Regions from separate parts of the Homo sapiens genome. Here region 1 is linked to region 2. The links come from fine-mapping of genetic effects on gene expression. A gene starts in region 2. The other region holds a variant in brackets. All regions are shown on one strand. Distances are between the middles of the regions. Region 1 has its middle 190 kb from the start of C1QTNF3-AMACR. Region 2 holds the start of C1QTNF3 (C1q and TNF related 3).

Evidence for each region. PIP is the estimated chance that this variant, and not a neighbour inherited with it, causes the effect.
Region 1: its variant is fine-mapped to the expression of C1QTNF3 in testis (GTEx, PIP above 0.99).

Annotation. Positions count from the first base shown.
Region 1 is chr5:34,316,321-34,320,721 of GRCh38, forward strand. No RefSeq gene overlaps it. Among named protein-coding and RNA genes, the nearest start is that of C1QTNF3-AMACR, 190 kb to the left of the region's middle. The variant T/C (reference allele first, on the strand shown) is at 1,768.
Region 2 is chr5:34,040,872-34,045,272 of GRCh38, forward strand. It overlaps C1QTNF3 (C1q and TNF related 3), which reads right to left and starts at 2,342. Exons shown (of 6, transcript NM_181435.6): 1 at 1,952-2,342. The coding sequence starts at 2,254. All of the region lies in intron 1 of C1QTNF3-AMACR (C1QTNF3-AMACR readthrough (NMD candidate)), which reads right to left.

The sequences.
Region 1 (4,401 bases), 280 kb after region 2:
CCCATTTCAGGAGGGGTCCTGCTCCAAGCCCTATAGAAAAGAATGCTGCACAGAGGGGCCAAGAAGAATCTGGGCAGACAGGCCTTGCTGGGTTTTCCACTCAGTATTAGATCACACTCATTTCATCCAATCACATTTTGACATGGTGGTCCATAACTTAGTCATACCTCTCCATGGAAGTCTTCCTAAAAGGCCCAAGAGAATGGGGGATGGAGAGCTTCTGGACAGCTGAACTTGTGAAGGCTTACAGAAAGGTGAACAAGAGCTCACATATGTGCCAGGAGGGTGGCACGCCCCCAATCCATGAGACAGAAGCTCCTGTGCTCAGGACCCTTCCAGACCTCTCCCTATATATTTATCCATGTGACTGTTTATTTGTATCCTTTAAAATGTTATTGATAATAAAAGGGTAAATGTAAACAGATGTTTTTCTGGGTTTTCTGAGACACTTTAACAAATTAATAGAGCCTAAAGAGAAGGCCATGGGAACTCCAACTTGAAGCAATAGATCAGAAGTTCCAAGGGTCTGGACTTGTGACTGGTGAAGGAACTGGGGGCAGTCTTGCGGGACTGAGCTCTCAAGCTGTGGAGATCTGACATAATCTTCAGGTAGGCAGCATCAGAATTGAACTGGATCAGGAGCTGCCAGCTGATAGCTGCTGTAAAATTGCTTGCTTGCTTGTGAACAGAGAGAAATCTCCACACATTTAGTCACAGAAACTTCTTGTGTTGATAACTGTGGCATGAGAACAGAAGAAAAACATATGTTTTGTCTACATAGTAGGTGATAAAGGTCTAATATGGTTTGGATTTGTGTCCCAGCCCAAATTTCATGTTGAATTGTAATTCCCAGTGTTGGATGTTGGGCCTGGTGGGAGGTGATTGGATCATGGAGTCGATTTCTCATGAATAGTTTAGCCCCATTCGCCCTTGGTGCTGTTCTCATAATAGTGAGTGAGTTCTTATGAGATCTGGTTGTTTAAAACTGTATGGCACCTCCCCCAGCCCTTGCTGCTCCAGCCCTGTGAAGTGCCAGCTCTGCCTTTGCTTTCTGCCATGATTGTAAGTTTCCTGAGGCCTCCCCAGAAGCTAAGCAGATGCCAGCATCATGCTTCCTGGACAGCCTGCAGAGCCAATTAAACTTCTTTTATTTATAAGTAACCCAGTCTCACTTATTTCTTTATAGCAGTGGGAGATACTAGATTCTTCAGCTGATTTCTTCTCATGACTAGCACTGAATTATAAGAACATCCTTAGACTAAGCACCGATGAAATGGAGTCGGATTATTACTGCTTTGACAAAGTATGATTCATCACCTGGGACCCTGGTGGGGTTTTACCTCTCTGAGATCGAGGTCTCTCCGGCATTTCCCGAATGCAATGGAATTGCATTGCCTGGTACTTAAAGCAGGGCGAGTGAGGACACTAGACATTCAACAGTAATTTCCACAAGCATAAGATACAAGGCCCACTACAACTTTGTGCATTTCTCTTCCAGATTTAGGAAAAGTAAAGGTGATCATATTAAAAACAAACAGACAACAACAACAACAACAAAATAAACTAAACTCCAAGACTGCTTAGATAGCCTGGAACTGCATACAACTTTTGTACTATAAAGTAGTTTGGAATTAATATAATTGTTAAAGATAAAACAAAGATAGCTGGGGACTTATTCTAATTCTTAATATTAGTGAATGAGACCATTTTTCAATTCTGTGAAGTTTTGTTTTATAGACTGTACAGTATTAAAGGAGTAAACTACTG[T/C]CTTCTGTCAATATGCATTTGTACCTCAGAAAGGATACAATAACTTATGGCAAGTTATTCCTTGTAAAGATACAGTCGTATGTTTATTTTTATCTACTTATGGTTTTTGTGCCTTATTTTCTCTACCTGTCCAACAGTGGTCAATTGGAAATATTACTGAGCTTTATTTTTTCTTCTATTTTTTGTTACATAAACTGTAAATTTCCATAATCTCAAAAAATGTACAAAAGGTGAGAATATTTACAATCTCTATGACCTGCGTATTGATGAGACTGATACCACCCTCAAATATTTTCGCCTAATAGATAATAAACATGAGTCTACTTTGAAACAGTGCTAAGTGAGAAATTAGTTATTCTTTGAAATCTTGATATAATTGCTTGTTTCAAAATAAGTATGCATTCTTTTTATTTGAATCTGTATCACTTCCCTGTGACTTAGCCTACTTCATCTAATATTTTAAGGCACACAATTATATGGGGAGATTGTTAGAAATGCAATATCTTAGCCTGTACTACCAGACATTATAATTCAGTAGAACAAGACTGGGGCTGTGGAATTTTGCCTCTTTCGTGTACTCTAGATTGTTCTGATGCATGCCCTCTATGAATCTTTGAATCCTTCTAGGGAAAACAACTGCAGTACATTTGATGTTTTTGTAACATTTATTTTAAGTTCAGGGGTACATATGCAAACTCTTCAGGTTTGTTACATAGGTACATGTGTGTCATGAGGGTTTGTTGTACACATTATTTCATCACCCAGGTATTAAGCCTGGTATCCATTAGTTATTTTTCTTGATCCTCTGCTTCCTCCCATCCTTCACCCTCTTATAGACCCCAGTGTGTGTTGTCCCCTCTGTGTCTGTGTGTTCTCATCATTTAGCTCCCACTTATAAGTGAGAACATGCAGTACTTGCTTTTCTGTTCTTGTGTTAGTTTGCTCAAGATAATGGTATGCAGCTCCATCCCTGTCCCTGCAAAGAACATGGTTCCCTTCTTTTTTATGGCTGCATAGTATTCCATGGTGTATATGTGCCACATTTTCTTTATACAGTCTATCACTGATGGGCATTTGGTTTGGTTCCATGTCTTTGTTATTGTGAATAGTACTACAATGAACATATGTGTGCATGTGTCTTTATAATATGAATAGAATAAATAATTTATATCCCCTGGGTATATACTTAGTAATGGGATTGCTGAGACAAATGGTATTTCTGTCTTTAGGTCTTTGAGGAACCACCTCACTGTCTTCCACAATGACTGAACTAATTTATAGTCCCATCAACAGTGTATGGCCAGGTGCAGTGGCTCATGCCTGTAATCCCAGCACTTTGGGAGGCCAAGGCAGGCAGATCACATGAGGTCAGGAGTTCGAGACCAGCCTGGCCAACATGGTGAAACCCCATTTTTACTAAAAATACACACACACACACACACAAACACACACACACACACACACACACATTAGCCGGGCATGGTGGCATGGGCCTGCAGTCCCAGCTGCTTGGGAGGCTGAGGCAGGATAATTGCTTGATCCCAAGAGACAGAACTTGCAGGGATCCGAGATCGTGCCACTGCACTCCAGCTTGGGTAACAGAGTGAGGTTTCATCTCGGAAAACAAAACAAAACAAAAAACAAAAAACAACAACAACAACAAAAACAAAACAGTGTATAAGCGTTCATTTTTCTCCACAACCTTGCCAGCATCTGTTATTTTTTGATATTTTAATAATAGTCATTTCAACTGGTGTGAGATGGTGTCTCATTGTGGTTTTGATTTGCATTTCTCTAATGATCAGTGATACTAAGCTTTTTTTTTCAAATGCTTGTTGGCTGCATGTAGGTACAAACCACTGCTCAAAGAAATCAGAGATGACACAAACAAGTGAAAAAACATTCCATGCTCATGCATAGAAAAAGTCAATATAATCAAAATGATCATACTGCTCAAAGCAATTTATAGATTCAATGCTATTCCCATTAAACTACCATTGATATTTTTCACAGAACTAGAAAAAATGATTTTAAAATTCATATGGAACAAAAAAAGAGTCCAAACTGCCAACACAATCCTAAGCGAAAAGAACAAAGCTGGAGGCATCACGCTATCCGACTTCAAACTATACTACAGGGTTACAGTAACCAAAATAGCATGGTGCTGGTACAAGAATAGATGCACAGACCAATGAAACAGAATAGAGAATGCAGTAATATGATGACACGCCTGCAATTATCTGATCTTCGACAAACCTGACAAAAAAAAAAAAAAAAGAAATGCAAATTCTTCATCGCCAATCAAATCTACTAGAAATAAAAACAAAACAAACAAACCAGCAAACAAAACTCTCTGTGGTTGGGGCCTCAAGCTTCAGAAGTGGTGACTTCTTTGTGAACTACTTTAGGGAATTATATTGCACACAATAAAAAAAAATCTGGATTCTGAATCAACACTAGTAGGAAAACTGTGAACCAAGAACAACCACATTAAATGGCTATTTTAGAAACAAATTTGTTTTTGTGTTTATTCACAGATAGTTTTAATTGATACCTGGAGTATCAATCAGAGTTCCTCACAAAAACAGAACCAATAGGAGGGGTGTTTGTGTATGTGTGATTTGTTTTAAGGAA
Region 2 (4,401 bases):
CCAGCTCAAAAACTATCAGTACTTTGACACTTTTGCCCAATTGCCTTTCATGTACTGACTTTATTTAACACATGGCATTTAATTAAACTTAATTTAATTAACAAAAATTTATCTCTACTACAGCCCTTCAGGATGGTTTGGACATGGGAGCTCAGGCATATTTATCTTTATATATCCCTGGCCCCCCTTTTAAAGTTTGGTACAAAGTAGAAGCACAAGAAATACACGGGAACTGAATGAATAAGAGGAAAATTGAATTACGATCAAAGAAGAGGGACAGGGGAAGTAGGGAAAGAAGGAAGAACATAGCACAATCCTAAATGCAAACTGTGGTTTCCATAGCCGTTGGTAGAGGAGTTGTAGTGAAAACTTCCAGAATGTCAGTAACTCTAAATATCCTCAATATCTCCTGTTGGTGGTTTGTTTGAAAATACTTCAGGAACCTAGAAGGTAGAGTGAAGGAGAAATGTGATTTGAATTTCAGTGGCCTGCTGGGTGTTGGTTGTCAGGACATAATGACCAAAGACAACCTTTAACTTCCTTCTGCTTCCTCTGGGGGAATCACACTGTCATGGCCAGGAAAGATACCATCTGTTGGCCAAGAAGGATACCATGTGTGAAATGGAAAGTCCAGATCAAGTCTTGGACACAAGTGAAAATATCTTCACCACAAAACAAAAACAAACAAAAACCCACACACAAATTAGTGCTAATCATTACCCTTTAGCCAAAAGATTATCAGATGAATAGACAATCTCTAAAAGTGGTTTTCAAAAGATAGGATCATATTTAGAGATTATCATTTCTTCCGTGGCTCCTTAAAGAAGCAATTTTCTCTGGATGCATCCCCCACAGAATGGTTTGGGCAACTGCCTTGTGTGGTCAAGTTAGAAGTTCTGGGTTAGTTTCAAATCTGCAATTGATTCTGTGTGTGATCTTGGTCTGACCATATAACCAAACAACCAACCCAAACTTCTGAATCCATGGTAGGAAGGATTTAGATTTCAATTACAAGAAATTCTTCAGGTCCTATTTAATGCATTAAAGTAATCAAATCTTGTAGTAAAAACCTGTATGTTCAAATATCATATAACTCAAAGTAACTCTTCTTGCCCCCTCTGACAGTTTTCAGCATACTAGATGTCTAGAGGGTAATTCAAAATATGTCTCTTCCTGTACTTAATATTTTAAATTACATTGAGTTTCACCAATTTGCAATTCACTATACTGAAATCTTAACTCACTCTCATACTACCAAGAGTTAAAGATATTTCCTTAGAGCTGAATTTATAACCTGAGAAATAGATCAAGTCCTCTGTGATTATCAGGCATCAAATCATGCTATAAGGTATGCATTTCAAACAGTTTATTTTTTATTTAACTCTTTAATTCTTTTTAAAACAGGCTGAACAGAGAGGCTTAACAATCTAGAATGCTATAAATCAAATAAACAAGACTGCCATGAAATGTCACAGTATACTCACAAATCAAAGTAAAAAAACTTTGATTGCTTTTGACAAACTCAAAGGGCAGCTTCTCCCTGCCGGAAGGGATGAAGAAAGCCCAATTCTCTTAAGAACAACAAATGATTGTCTACAGTGACCGATCTGTCTGCATGGGTCAGCACTCCTTTCCGGACCAACAGAGCAAGAAGGAAATCAAGTCCCAGCATAGCAGGAAGCTGGCTGGCCAGGTTCCCCTTTCTGATGGGGTGATGCTACGGCCACTATCCCATCACATCATTGCTGCCTCTGCTGATTTTCTAACAGAGACCGACAGTCTCTCTTGTACCCAAGAGCAATCCAGAAAGAGATTCACAAGCAGCTTAGCGAACTTCTCGAAAGCATTCATTGATTCTAAGAATCTTAGCCAAAAAAAGAACAACAACAAAACAACAACAACAACACTCATTAAGCTTTCACAAAAATCCTTAGAAGAGAATTCTGAGTACCTGGCCCCAGAATGTGGTGATCTGGGCTAGGTCATCTACCTCGGGGTGCGGTAGCTCATCTGGTCTCAGGGATTTTAGGTCTGTAGAAGTGTTATTATCCACAGTCCCAGTTTTAGGATGGCTCCGCTCTCTCACTTTCTCCCTCCTGGAGCCGCTACGGCCAGTCTGCTGGTGGCTTTGCACTATTCTTGCCACCACTTTATTAGTTCTTCCGCTCACCTCCATGTATTCATCTTGACACAGGCAAAAAGGGAGGAAAAACAAAGCCAGCAGTTGCCAATAGATGAGCTGCCTCCAAAGCATGATTCTCAACAGAGCCTCAGAGTCTCCCTGAGAAGACAGCAGAGCTCCAGGAGCGTGGTCTCCTCGGGCAGATGCCAGGACTGGAGCTGAGAGCTGCAGCGGCGGAGTGGTTTTATACTTTGGTGTGTAATAAATAAGGCTGTAGGCATGCCAGAGTGACAGCAGCCCTCCTCCCCAGGCAGAACAGCCCCCATTCATCATTTTCCCACACCACAAGCAAGAACGATTTGTGTGCACAGTTCCCAGTTGGCGAAATTCATAAATGTCACACCTTGGCACGTTTCTGTTGAAGTGTGAAGAAAACATACACAACCAGCTGGGAACAGAGAGCATGTGTCCAGCAGTTTGCTTTTGTGATTAGACATGGAAAGGCTGTGTATTTGCAGTCTAAAAAGCCTTTTGGAAAAATCTACCCTTGTGCTTGCCAGGAAATTCAGGCTTAACTGCATCAGTTTTGTCTGAAATAGCAGTGGGAACCCATTCAGGGCTTTCACGACAGCTCTTGGTTTCTAGCTGTACTGTTAGTATTTCCCCACTTTGGCCCACTTAAGGTAACTCATTTCCCCTTCCGGATACCAGTGGCAGAAGGCAGTTGGTTGCCTACAAAACACTGAGCAGGATTCAGGTGCAGTGTCTCTGGGTTTAGCAAAGGTATTTCGCCACCCTCAGCTTTACTTCTTTTCCCCATGACTTCCCAAAAGCCAAAATTAAATCAAAGTTAACTAAGTCACTTATTGTCAGATGAAGATACAACACCCTGCTTTGTGTTAAGAGAAGGCTGTCTCTGGCTCCTCTTTCTTTTGACATATTCTTGATTAAAATAGAAACGGGGCCGGGCACAGTGGCTCATGCCTGTAATCCCAGCACCTTGAGAGCCCAAGACAGGTAGATCCCTTGAGCCCAGAAATTCGAGGCCAGCCTGGGCAACTTAGTGAGACCCTGTCTCTACTTAAAAAATAAATAAATAACAAAACTGAAGAAGTGGAAAGCACCAAACACGTTATTTCAAACACAGCGTATCCAGATTAAGAGGATTCTCATGTCTTTGCTTTAGTTGCTATACTTTTATTAATTCAGCCAAAAAGAAAATGGACATTCCTAATTGCTTCAGGATAATAAATTAAGAGAATTTAAACAGTTTTGTCATCAAAAATTGCTTCTATTTACATATGATTTTATTTATATTACTCATTCACTCGCTTAAGAAAATGTTACTGGCCTTCTCTCATGAAAACTGGAGAGACCCAGGACCGTAAATAGCATGGGTGGCAAGCGTCTGATGAGAAGGGGGCGAGGAGGCACTGTGGGAAACTGAGGCTTGGAGAAGCTCAGCCTGCTGATGAAGAGTCAGAGCAGCTGGGGAAAGGGGAGAGGAGAGAGAGCTGTTGACAGCTGCCCCCATTGCTCAGCCAAGGGCCTGAGAACCAAGAGCCATCTCTGGAAGTGGCCAGAACTGTCAAAACTAGCCTGGCCCCTCCTGCAGCTACCAGAACAGCCGCTTCCAGAGTCCACACTTATACATGGAAAGGGTTTGGTGCTGGGGACGGAGGGAGAGAGTTACTCTGTGAACTAAAAGCTCTCCAGGCCACAGTTCAGGGGCCTTGGGAGTCATGTTCAGTCCAAGCAGTCAGTTCCCACCTAGTAGGGCATAAAAATTCAGCCATCTCTGTGCTACAAGTCTACCCTTGAGCATCTAAACCTTCCTCACTGGAGGATTCCTTGAGTTCTGTCATGTCCACCATTAAAAGGTAGATGTCCCTGGGAAGGGAAGTGTGTCAAACTGTTATTCTTAGTAACTGAGGATTTTCTTCCCAGACCTGGAGCTGGAGCTGGGGAAAGGATGGCGCCTGTGTTTGGAGGGTGAGCAAGTGGATGGGCTTTTGCTGTGGGAAGGAAAGCCCAGAGCAGTGTCTCAGTGGGGGTGTTCCCTCCTCAGGGAGGCCCAGAGAAAATGTCACAGGGAGACCACAAAGCAAGCAGTGGCTCTGAAATCTAGGTCACCCAATTCACAGGTTTTCCAAGAGCTGTCTCTGGCTCTCACCATCATGCATCCCCCACGAAGTGGGCCATACTGCTAAGTAACTATAAATCAGCCTCTGACTTTCTACCGCATTGAGACTTTCCATTCGTGTTTTCAATCCTGTCAT